Linked DNA regions of Homo sapiens. The protein of the gene in region 1 purifies or fractionates together with the protein of each later gene. This does not show direct contact. Each region holds a gene or a part of one and is shown on either strand. Other genes may lie near its edges.

The links.
Region 2: the proteins of DIAPH2 (region 1) and RHOD purify together in Homo sapiens (co-immunoprecipitation; 3 studies listed by BioGRID and IntAct, with this or other methods). This does not show direct contact.

Annotation. Positions count from the first base shown.
Region 1 is NC_000023.11:97,597,842-97,604,991, reverse strand, and holds part of DIAPH2 (protein diaphanous homolog 2), read right to left. Parts: intron 5,740-7,150; coding exon 5,675-5,739; 3' UTR 1-5,674. UniProt on the Homo sapiens protein: Could be involved in oogenesis. Involved in the regulation of endosome dynamics.
Region 2 is NC_000011.10:67,066,847-67,072,667, reverse strand, and holds the end of RHOD (rho-related GTP-binding protein RhoD), read right to left. Parts: coding exon 5,821-5,821; intron 2,244-5,820; coding exon 2,109-2,243; intron 1,234-2,108; coding exon 1,066-1,233; 3' UTR 651-1,065; downstream 1-650. UniProt on the Homo sapiens protein: Involved in endosome dynamics. May coordinate membrane transport with the function of the cytoskeleton. Involved in the internalization and trafficking of activated tyrosine kinase receptors such as PDGFRB.

The DNA.
Region 1 (7,150 bases):
GTATATCTTAACTTTATTGAATAAGTAAGTAGCCATTACATATAGATTGCAAGTCATTCTTGGTCCTGCTTAGAGATAGGTGTTTATTCCAAGGTGAAATGACAGCACAAATCCACAGTTCTACTGCAAGTGAAATACTTCTTCAGGGTGGCTTGGTATGGACACAATCTCCCTCAATACCCATTCAAAGCAGTCTTTGCTTTCACCTCTCCCTTTAGGTGAGGGATTCACGGTATGTAAAATAAGCTTGTAAAGAACCCTTCTGTATCAGAGGTAGTTTTGTGCCTGCACTGTGAACCATAGAAGGCATTTGGTCAAAGGTGTCATAAAAGGGGCAGAAGAGGTACATCAGAGCACAGAGTTGGGATCGATTATTTTTTTCAAGTTAATTGCCCATAGTAGCAAAAGTATCAACCAAAATTTAGAATAGCCTGTCCATCCATTTAACAACAGAGCATGCAGCAGCCTGTGCAGACAATAGCTTTTAGAGACAAACTTCGATCTGGTTTGAGCACCAAGAATGCATCTTAAAAAGTGAAAAATTCATTTGTGTGCAATGAATAGTGTAGTGAGCTGCATGGTGCCCCCTCCCCAAAAAAGATATTCAATATCCTACTCCCTGGAACCTGTGATAGTACCTTATTTGGAAAAAAGGTCCTTTCAGATATAATTAAGAATCTTGGAATAAGGGAATTATCATGGGTAATCTGGATGGGCCCTAAGTCCCGTCACAAGTGTCCTTATAAGAGAGAGGCAGAGGTAGATTATATATACAGAGGGGAAGTGATGTGAAGACAGAGGAGAGGGAGATGCAGTCACAAACCAAGGAATGATGGCAGCCACAAGAAACTGGAAGACACGGGAAGAGTGTTTCCCTTAGAGTCTCCAGAAGACGTTCAGCCCTGCCAACCCCTCAATTTTGGACTTTTGGCCTCCAAAACAACAAGATAATAAATTTCTATTGTTTTAAGCCACTGGGCTAGAGGGTAATTTGTTACAGCAGCCATGGGAATCTAATGCAGATTGTGGAACTGGGACGGATTGGGTACTTCTGTAACAAATGTCTTAAAATGTGAAAAAGGCTTTGGAATTGGATAATGGGTAGAGACTAGAAGAATTTTGGTGGCTGTGATAGAAAAAACTAGATTGCCTTTACCAGATGGTAGTAGTATGAATGTTAAAGGCATTTCTAGTGATGGTTTAGAAGGAAATGAAGATTTTATTGGAAAATGGAAGAAAGGGAATCCTTGTCATATAGTGGCAAAAAGTTTATCTATCTAAATTGTCTACTACAGTAGTGTGAAAAGTTGAATAAATGATGAACTTGGATGTTTAGCTGAGGAAATTTTCAAGTCTAGTGTTAGAGATATAGCTTAGTTTCTTCTTAGTGCTTATAGTAAAATAAGACAGAAAACAGATACATTGACAAAACAGGCTGGGCATGGTGGCTTACACCTGTAATCCGGCACTTTAGGAGGCCAAGATGGGTGGATTGCTTGAGGCTAGGAGTTCGAGAGCAGCCTGGACAACATAGCAAGATCAAGTCTCTACAAAAAAATGCAAAAAATTAGCCAGGCATGGTGGCATGCACCTGTAGACCCAGCTACTTGGAAGGCTGATGCAGGAGGATCCCTTGAGCCTGGGAGTTTGAGGTTACAGGGAGCTATGTTTGCACCACTACACTGCAGCCTGGGTGACAGAGTGAGACCTCATCTCTAATACATTAAAAAAAATTTTTTTTTAAAGAGAAAATAACTATATAAGTGGACAAAAGGAATCAGTATCTGATGACTGGGTAAATTCTGAGCCTGAATTCACAATCTGAATGATTGTAAAAAAAAAAAAAGATGCTAAAATTAGGAGATTCACTGTTAGAAAAGTGTGCTCTGTAGATAAGCCCAAGGGTGTGTCTTGACAACCTTTGGCTAGTGCTGAAGAGGTTAGGCATTAACTTGTGGATTTATTTGACTGTTTCAACAGAAGCCAAGAATAGAGATGGGGTTGTTCAGGAAAAATCTGTGAGGACCCTCTTTTCTGAATGTGTGAATCAATGTGACATACGTAGAAGACCCACAAGATTTTTGAGAATGTTCTACCATCAGAAACACTTCCAACTGGGCCTAAAAGGGACAGAGACAGAAAAAAATGAAAGAAGATTGTGAGACTGCCAGAATTCTACAGGTAGGAAACCCGTTGATAAAACTTCTCAGCTGCAAACATGTGCCACCCTTCAAGATAAAGGAAGCACCATCCCGAGAGCAGAGCTGCAGGTACAGAGGCAGAGGCCCAAGTGTGGGAACAGAGGAAGAAGTGCAACCCATAGGCACAGAGGCAGAGGCCCAATCCATAGTCCAAGAAAGAAGAGCTACAGGCCCAAAGGGTGGAGCCCTGAGAAAGAGGATTACTGCCAGGCCTTGAAATATAACAGAAATTTGCCTGGCTAGATTTTGAAAATGATTGGGACAGGAGACTCCATTCCAATTTCCATTCTCTCCTTTTTGAGACAGAAATGTCTGTAACTGTTATCCTATGCCTGTTCCCACCATTGTAATTTGAAAGCAGATTAACTTTTCTGTTTCACTGGTTCTCAGAGGAAGAGGAATTTGGCCTCAGGAAAGACCATACCCAGAGTTTCACTCATACCTGATTTAGATGATCTAAATGATAAGCTTTGGAACTTTTGAACCGATGATATTTGAATGAAATTTTGGACTTAGGATTGATATAATGGGTTGAGACTTTTGGTAATGTTAGGATGGGATGAATGTCTTTTACACATGAGACAGACATAAATTTTGGGCCAAAGGGCAGACTCTGGTGGGCTAAGAGTGGCTTCCTAAAAGACATAGCCACATCCTAATCCCCAAAACCATGAATTTATCTTATTTGGAGAAGGGGGCCTTGCAGATGTAATTAAGTTAAGACTCATGAGGTGAGGAGATTATCCTGGAGTAATCTGGGTAGTCCCTAAAAGTCATCATAAGGATCCTTATTAAACAGAGGCAGAGGCAGATTAGGTATACAGAGGAGGGTGATGTGAAGACACAGCAGAAAGAGAAATGTGGCCATAAGCCAAAAAATGCCAATAGCCACCAAAAGGTGGACGTGGCAAGGAAAGATTCTCCTCTAGAGCCTCTGGAGGGAGCATGGCTTTGCTGCCCTTCAAAAATGTAAGCAAATAAGTTTCTGTTGTGTTAAGCCATCATATTATTGGTGGTAATTTGTTACAGCAGCCAAAGGAGATGATGGATGCAATTAGTTGTTAATATTTTAAGGATTCTGTACCTTTTAAAAATATTCTGAAGAAAATCTGCATAAATGGTGCTTCTCATGTGTGGCAGTAATATGGCCAACAAAAGACCTTAGTGTAATTTGGTTTCATACTAAAAATGTCACTATATACTTTTTTTGGTGATATACTTTCCAATCATCTAAAACAAAACTGCAAATGGCTAGAGCAGGACCATTACAAATCTGGGAAACAAACCTTTTAACTCACTCAACTATTGGAACTTCATGAAAGACCCTGAAAGGTTTTTTTTTTTAATGTTTGTGAAAAGCATGTGGGATTGCTCTAAATAAAAATATATAAGTTATCAATAATAGTACTTCATTCGTTCTTGTTCACAAACTAGAAAATAAGGCAAGTTTGTATCTGGAAAAGGTGATGATACATATCAGTATTTCTACCTTGACCAGCTTGATAATATAGCAAGGCATATGCTCCCAAATTTTAGTCAGGGTTAACATTTCAAGATCATTCTCCTACAGACTGATAAGCTGTCAAAAGAATTAAAAAAGCCATACCACGAAGATTTCAGAAAAGAAAGACTTTGTAAAGTCAAAAATACACATACTAGGTATTTACATAAATTAGAACCTAAACTTTTGTTGTTGTTAAAAAACAGTGTTACTGCTATGTCCCTTAAATGTGTGTGTGCATGTGTGTGCATTTGTGTATGTGTGTTTTCAGATCGGATAGGACTGTGAAATTTCAGATACTGTTACCCTTTTTGATTTTTCTATTGTAGCAGCTTCAGAGCTTTTTAAAGAAGTATAATACCTAAGTAAGGATGCACTGGAGGCAAAGGCAGCAGTTTGAATCATTATACATCTATATAAAGGAATCATCTGTGGGCTGCTGGTCACTTGTTTACTTTATCTCAGATGGGGATTTGCCAAGCCAGCCATTTGTTCTTCTCTCTGAATATCTACAATGTGCTTTGAATGAGTAGAAACAGTATTTTCTACATAAGAAATATACATGTAAGAAATTTCTTACAATAATCACAATCAATCATCTGCATGAATTAGACTTAAAATTGCACTCCAGAGAAGTTATACCACATTATTTCAATGCATATTTTAAAATAATAGACAGACAAGTTAAGTATAACTTTTACTCCCTAATTTATTTAAGAAAAATGTAGAACCTGTTTTCCCTGCTAGACTTGTTTTGGCAGCATCATCTTAATTTGTTAATATAAGGTAAGTAAGTATGATGATAATTGAGAAGTTCACTTAGTTGGAATTATTGTAGCAAGAGATAGAAATATATACACATATTTACACATACATACATAAAATTTCTTTTTCTTCTTCAGACCACCAAAGTGAAATTGGAAAGAGAGTGGAAAGGGAGATAAAACAATTGACCTTTCAGACAGTTTTCTGCTGCCTCCTGTAAAAAGAATTCTTTTTCCTCTCAGGTTTTCTAGAAGTCTATTCCCTGCCTTCAAGGGACTCAAGGGAGAAAGAAGCAATAGAAAAAAGAAATAAACCACAGAGCATAGGAATCAATATTTGCCTTTGAAATCTAAATAAACGTAATAGAATTTTCAGGTTCATCCCTAGCATAAACATTAAAATGTGAGGGTTTTCTCAAAAATAGCCATATAAAGTATTTGTATAAAGTAGATATCTGTGCATAATTAGAAAATACCTCTTTAAATAAAGTTTAAATCACTTTCCCTAACTGATTCGGTTAAACTTTGGTTTATTTATTTTTAGCAATGAGAAGTGCTTGCAATATCATGCTGAAATGCTAGCTAGACTAATGATAAGTTTAATTTCAGCCAAAGCAGATGAATCCATCAGCTTTCACTTGAGATAAAATTCTAAATAACTCAACTGGGGTGGAGCAGTACTTTCGTGAATTTCCAAAATGGCTTCTCTTACAGTGTGCATAATATTAGCCTCTCTCCAAATCAAGATGCATATTTTTCTTGGCCCTTTTCTATTATATATGTACTAGGGATTGGAAGCTGACACTGGATAATTCTTTCTATTCTTTTTCTTCTCTTTTGTTTTTGGTGGGGGTGACTTACACATTTAAGATTTTAAATTTTTGACTGAGTGTTTTTGAAAGCCTTAGAACTCTTCAATTTCTTACACTTCCATCATCACAGTCAGGTCACACACAATTACAAATGATACACATCTTTACACTAAAATGGAACACATTTTGTAATCCTGATAACTGTGTTCAGATTAGAATAATTGTGGGAGGAGTCTTGCAATAGTATTACAAATGCACACTACTTCATCCAGCTTATCTTGATCTTTGCAGAAATGCACTTATTTCCTTTCCAGCCGCTGAGTGCACACTTTGTTCTTCTCAAAATGCATCATTTTGTTTTTACTTAAATATTTTCATATTCTTTGGCATCAGGAATCACTTAGATGAGATAGCTCCATTGTGGCGAGAGCGTGACCTTTCCAAAGGTACTCGTCTGTTATCTGTAAGACAAACAGAAAAAGGACCAAAAGCATGGTAAGTTTTAGATCTTTGCTATTACATGATGTTAGGTTGAGAAAGGTTTTCAAATAGTCCTGAAAAATCACTTCAAATGAAAATGTAAATAAGTAACAAGGAACTCAGATCTGAGGAGTTCATGCGGCAGCTGCCCGGCTGAGTTCAAGAGTTCTGCAATCAGCAATAAATGACTTTTCTTGGTAAGCGAAGTCAGAGTGATAAAAGAAATGGAAGCAGTCTCTCAAGCACAGTCCCCTTGGAAATAGCAGGCAACAACAAAATTCTTTGGTAAAGATGTTAAATTGAAAAGATCTATATACAGCACCTTTTGTTGGAAAGCACTTCAATTCCCCATGAGTTTTCAATCTGTATGTTGGCTACCTCTAGAGGACACCAGCATAGGCAGAGCAGAAAAGAGTTTTTATTTTTTACAATGATTGCAATATGTGGCAATCACACTAGCTACCAAATTTGCTTGATTGTATGATGTAAAAAAATTCAATATATTATATAGTCATCATGGGAATGAATAATGAATAGGACCTATTCCAGGTCCCATTCCCACCACCCATCACAGGAAGAATAATTATTATAGAGATAACAAAACTTGGAAAACAAAGTTTAAAAGCATTGAAAGTTGCTGAAAATAGTTCTAGCTTTAATAGGGAAAAGGTTTACAGCTCTGCATTGCAATGATCACTACTATGTTATTATCACCTCTGTTTTATGCTCAGCTTAAATGCAATTGATGTGGGGTGAAAATCCCTTTCTGACAAAAGCATAATATACTTAGATTCTCTATTTAGAATGAGACTAGGTCCCTAGAAATAATGACAACCACCAGCACTTACATAAATGCTAACACTTTACACTCGTTAATTTGCTAATTCACACAACATCTCCGGGAGGTAAGCCCATTTCATTCTATCCTATTATCTCTGCTTTAGTGATGAAGGTTACACAGCAAATCAATGGTATGATGGGGGATTATAATGCAAAGTTAATGCCTAAATGTCAGGCCTGCTTTGTTCAGAGTTAAAGGTTGGGGCCTCCCAAGCTGCTACTCATTTCCTCCTTGAGATGATGACGCCCAACTAACACATCCTGCCTGTTGTATGGGGAGGAAAAACTGAGAACTACTGAGGTTTTGCCATGGTGCCGTTCTTGTCTGTGCTAGCATCTCTTGACTGATTTCCCGGTAGTCTGTGGTCAGCAAACAGAGCAAAGCTAACGGGCCTCCATGACCCCAGCCTCATTAACACCACGGTATGTGTCCTGAGCCAACCAGCCATAAACTTAAAGCATACTGAGTGCTTCATGATGCAATAATATCACTGAGAGGTGAGAAAGAAAGAGGCATTTTCTCTACTCAGAGATATATCTGAGTGATGGATT
Region 2 (5,821 bases), on another chromosome or scaffold:
CGGCCTCCCAAAGTGCTGGGATTACAGGCATGAGTCACTGTGCTCGGCCCTGGCCGAACCTTTTGTGAGCACTTACTGCGTGCTAGGCACCTACTAAGCTCTTTGCGTGTGTTGGTCCTCATGACCCTCTTACTCATCCGAAAGTTCCATGGCTTAGTCTGTGATCCATTTCACAGGTGAGGAAGCTGAGGCCCAGAAGAACTTGCCCAAGGTCGTGGAAGCAATAAAGCTGGTTTGGATCCAAGCAGTCCCATCCCAGTGCCTAGATGGGGTGGGCTTTTACCTACCTTGGAACGTGTGTGTAAAGACACCTTGAAACAAGAGGCATAGGCAGGGCGTGGTGGCTCATGGCTGTAATCCCAGCACTTTGGGAGGCCGAGGCGGGTGGATCATGAGGTCAGGAGTTCGAGACCAGCCTCACCAACATGGTGAAACCCCGTCTCTGCTAAAGAAAATACAAAAATTATCCGGGTGTGGTGGCGCGCGCCTGTAATCCCAGCTACTCAGGAGGCTGAGACAGGAGAATCGCTTGAACCCAGGAGGCACAGGTTGCAGTGAGCTGAAATGCGCCACTGCACTCCAGCCTGGGCGATAGAACGAGACTCCGTCTCAAAAAAAAGAAAACAGAAAAAAGAGGCACGACACAATGATAAGTGATGTCGTTTTTCTTGTTACAGTTACCAGTATGACAGGTGGGAAGGGGCCGGGTGTGGGTTCTGGCCAGAGGGACCTAAGAACATTAGGTCCTGGCAGGTGCAGCCCTGGGAGCAGCCACGAGGGGGCATCAGGCTGCACAGGCGGCTCCAGGATGTCGGTCCGGGACCGGGCATAGGGGTTAGCGAGTGATTCTCGGGCACCGCAGGACGAGCCCTACACAGAGCAGGTGGGCCCAGGAACCCCCTTTCTCAGTCCAGGACTCCCAGGCCTCAGGGCCTGGCTTTGGTGGCGCCCGTCTGTTGCAGTGGAGTTCGGCGGTCACAGCCTAGGGACCGGGTCCAGCCCAGCCAGCTCAGCAGCAGGTCAGCGCCCTGCCCCTTCCCGCGTCGCTGGGACGCCCCGAGCCGCTCAGGTCACCACGCAAAAGCCCTGGGTAATCCGCCGCCAGAAGTTGCGACCGCGGCTGCTGAGGGCCACCTCGGCGGCCTCCTGGAAGACGGCGTGGACGTTGTCATGGAGCCGAGCCGAGCACTCGAGGTAGGCCACCGCGCCCACGGACCTCGCCATCTCCTGGCCCTAGAGGGAGAGGTGGATGGGGCTGCGGTGAAGGGGGCACTGGGCAGGCCTCACGTTCTCGCTTCCTTTTCCCGGACAAGAGTGGAAGGTGGGGTCTGCGGAGCACCCATGGCTCCCGTATCCCTGCTTGCCCAAGCGCCCTCATGCACTTCATCATGTTTGTTTTTCTTTTCTTTATTTTTATTATTATTATTTTTTTGAGACGGAGTCTTGCTCTGTCGTCCAGGCTGGAGTGCAGTGGTGCGATCTCAGCTCACTGCAGCTCCTCCAACCGGGTTCAAGTGATTCTCCTGCCTCTGCCTCCAGAGTAGCTAGGACTACAGGCACCCGCCACCACACCACTTGGCTAATTTTTTGTATTTTTGGTAGAGACAGGGTCTCGCTATTTTGCCCTGGCTGGTCTCGAACTCCTGACTTCAAGTGATCCACCCACCTCGGCCTCCCAAGTGCTGGGATTACAGGCGTGAGCCCCTGCGCCCTGCCAGCCTTCGTTGTTTTTAACCTCCGTTCTGGGCCTCTTTGCCTCTCAAGGCACCAAGAAATGAACTTCCCATGAACCCAGACGTGTAGCAGAGAGGGACCCACGGTCTGAATATGTGGGTGCCTGCCTGGGCCCCCTCTCTGGGTCTCAGGTTGGTGGTGGAACTGACTCTGATATGCCTACTTCCTTGTTCTCCCTTTTGCCTGTGGAGGCTCCCAGAATATTCTAGGGACCATTTCTAAGTGCTGGAAGTTTCTGACCTCTGACAGCCTCTAAGACGACCGCAGCTCTGACCTACACCCTGAGCGTTCTGGACACCTGGTGCCACTGAGAGGCATCCAGAGGTCCCCTCACTCAGTCCTCCCCAACTCCCACCTCGGGCTGGGTTTCCTACCCTGTGGTAGGTCACAGGCTCCAATCCGTTTCTTCGGAGCTTGTTCACCAGTGATTTGTCCTTGCGCAGGTCAGTCTTGCAGCCCACGACGATGATGGGTACCTTCTTGCAGAAATGATTCACTTCTGGGTACCACTGCAGGGGGGCGAGGGGGCATGTGGGGGGCATGTGTGAGCCCTGGAGAGTTCTGGCCCTCTCAGTGGACCACTCTCTTGCTCCCCAGCCTGAGCTCTGATATGGATAATCAGCAAAGCCAGCACCTAGGGAGAAACTATTTGGTACCAGAACCTCATCTAAGAATTTACACGTATGGACCCATTAATTCCCCGAGGCCGTGGCAGCAAGTTCACAACCAATCCCACTGTACAGGTGCGGTAACTGAGGCACAGAAAGGCGATGTAACTTGGCCTTGGCTGGAAATGGCAGGATTTGAGCCTGGGGGTGGGGCTCAGAACCCTGCTCCTGCCGTTCTAGAATCTTTCCTCTCTGCAGGGTAAGGGCCCTCATGGACACCCACCAAACTGAGCAAAACATATAAGGAAGTAAGGGATCCTTTAAAAACAAATCTGGGCCAGGTGTGGTGGCTCACGCCTGTAATCCCAGCACTTTGGGAGCCTGAGGCAGGTGGAACACCTGAGGTCAGGAGTTTGAGACCAGCCTGGCCAACAGTGAAACCCTGTCTCTAGTAAAAATACAAAATTTAGGTGGGCATGATGGCGGGTGCCTGTAATCCCAGCTGCTCGGGAGGCTGAGGCAGGAGAATGGCATGAACCTGGGAGGCGGAGGTTGCAGGGAGCTGAGATCGCGCCACTGCATTCCAGCCTGGGCGACAGAGTGAAACTCCATCTCAAAATAAATAAATAAATCAATTAAAAAGATAAAAATAAATCAATCAATCCAGGCCGGGCTCGGTGGCTCACGCCTGTAATCCCAGCACTTTGGGAGGCTGAGGGCAGGCAGATCACCTGAGGTCAGGAGTTCGAGACCAGCCTGGCCAACAAGGGGAAACCCCGTCTCTACTAAAAATACAAAAATTAGCTGGGCGTGGTGGCGTGCACCTGTAGTCCCAGCTACTCTGGAGGCTGAGGCAGGAGAATCGCTTGAACCTGGGAGGCGGAGGTTGCAGTGAGCTGAGATGGAGCCACTGCACTCCAGCCTGGGCTACAGAGTGAGACTCCGTCTCAAAAAAATAATAAATAAATAAATCTGCTCACAAAATGGTTGCAGCAGCTGTCTGCCTCAACTGCTTGCCTGGTGGAGGGAGGGCTGCTCTGCAGAATGTGAGGCCACCAGGGCCGAGTTCTTTCAGCCTGGACTACAGCTGGGGAGCCGGGGATCCCGGGAGGGGGCTTCCTATCTCCAGGAGCACTAAGTCGGCTGAAGTCGGCTGGTTTGGGCATGAAACTTGCCTGATAAAAATTGGCATCAGCCGGGCTTGGTGGCTCAAGCCTGCAATCCTAGCTACTCGGGAGGCTGAGGCAGGAGAATCGCTTGAACCCAGGAGGTGGAGGTTGCAGTGAGCCCAGATTGTACCACTGCACTCCAGCCTGGGAGACAGAGTGAGACTCTGTCTCAAAACAAACAAACAAACAAACAAACAAAAATTGGCATCAAACTACCTCATTCCTGGAAGCAAATGGGGCCTTTGTGGGGTCCCTGGCAGATTCCCCACACCCCCGCATCCACCGAAACTGCCCATGAGAAAGGTTTCCTTGGTGGCTCCCACTGAACCCAGCAGTGAATCCTCTCTTTTTTGAGACAGTCCCGCTCTGTCGCCCAGACTGGAGTGCAGTGGTGCGATCTTGGCTCACTGCAACCTCCGCCTCCCGGGTTCAAGCAATTCTCCTGCCTCAGCCTCCCAAGTAGCTGGGTTATAGGCATGTGCCACCACGCCCGGCTAATTTTTGTATTTTTAGTAGCAACGGGGTTTCACCATGTTGGTCAGGCTGGTCTCAAACTCCTCAAATAATCCACCCTCCTCAGCCTCCCAAAGTGCTGGGATTACAAGGCGTGAGCTACCGCACCCGGCCACCATCAGAGAATCCTTAGCCCTGCTCCTACTGATCCCTCGATAACCCCGACCCTGGGCATCACTCCCTCCTACCTGACTGAGCCTGCACTTCACCCCAGGACCCCACTCTCCTGGCTCTCCTAGGTCTTATGGGGCCTTGCCCTCCTCCTCCTCTCCCTGGGGTTCAGCCTGTGGTCTTTCCTCTCCTCTAGCTGCTCTCCCTTCCTGGGCAGCCTCCCCCAGGCTTTACTGCACCCGTAGCTTCTAAATGTGCAGCTGCATTTAGGCTGCCCAGCTGGACTGCCTGCTCGGAGGAACTGCAGACGCATGCATCGCACTGCCTGCCGGACACCTCCACTAGGATGTCCCACTCCCGAACCCAGCTTGCTCCTTGTCATCTTGGCCAAGGGCAACTCCACCTTCCAGCTGCTCTGGTAAAAACTCCTCCCAGGCTGGGCGTGGTGGCTCACGCCTGTAATCCCAGCACTTTGGGAGGCCGAGGCGGGCGGATCACGAGGTCAGGAGATCAAGACCATCCTGGCTAACATGGTGAAACCCCGTCTCTACTAAAAATACAAAAAATTAGCCGGGCGTGGTGGCGGGCGCCTGTAGTCCCAGCTACTCAGGAGGCTGAGGCAGGAGAATGGTATCAACCTGGGAGGCAGAGCTTGTAGTGAGCCGAGATGGCGCCACTGCACTCCAGCCTGGGTGACAGAGCAAGACTCCGTTTCAAAAAACAAACAAACAAACAAAAAAACTCCTCCCTCCCACCCACATCCAATCCAACAAGAAACTCTGATCATCAGCAAACTCCGCCTTCTAGACCGATTCAGAATCAGCCCCCTTCTCGTCACCCCCACTGCTAGCACCCTGGCCCCAGGCACCACCATCTCTCCTGGTACCCAATGCCCAGAACAGCACCAGAACGAATGTGCTCAATCATTCGTTCTGAATGAATGGGCGGAGCAGCCTGCCTGGGTTCAAATCCCAGTGTTACCACTTTAATAGATGTGTATCTTTGGACGAGTGACTGGATCCGGGAATAATAATACTCCATAAGGTTGGCCGGGGGAGTAAATGAGTAAATACATGCAAGTACCAAGAACACTGCCTGGCACGTGGTCAGTCCTTAAAATTGTCACCGTTGTTGTTGTTGTTGCAAATACTGTCATGGGCTGTACCCTGCGGAAACTCGGAGGCCCTGGCAGCAGTGGGTGAGGGGCTGTGCCATGGCTAAAGGCAGCTGGAGCAGAGGAATTCAAGGGGCCACATCCCTGATGCCCATGAGCAGCCTCTGAGAACCAGCAGCCACGCAGAGCTGCTGGACTCTGACTTGACTGTTCATGCACCTTGGGCGGGCACAGGCTGGGGAGATGTAGCAGCCTCTGGCTCACCCAGCAACCTCAGGCAGAGCCGCCGTGGGAAGAGCCACAGTGTTCGGAGTCTGCAGCATAGGGTAGGCAAGGAGCACTGTACTGGGAGTCAGAAGGGCAGACGCTGCCACCAAATCCCTGTGCCAGCAACCCTGGGCAAGCCACTGCCCCACTCTGAGCCTCAGTTTCCCCATATATACACCAAAAGCTCTGGAATCAATATCATTTTGGGCCTGCCAAGCTCTGACAGTCAGCTGGGTCGAGGGTGGGTGGCAGAGTGGAGTGGCCTGGCTATGGGGGCTATGCCTCCCTGCCCCCCAGTACCTACC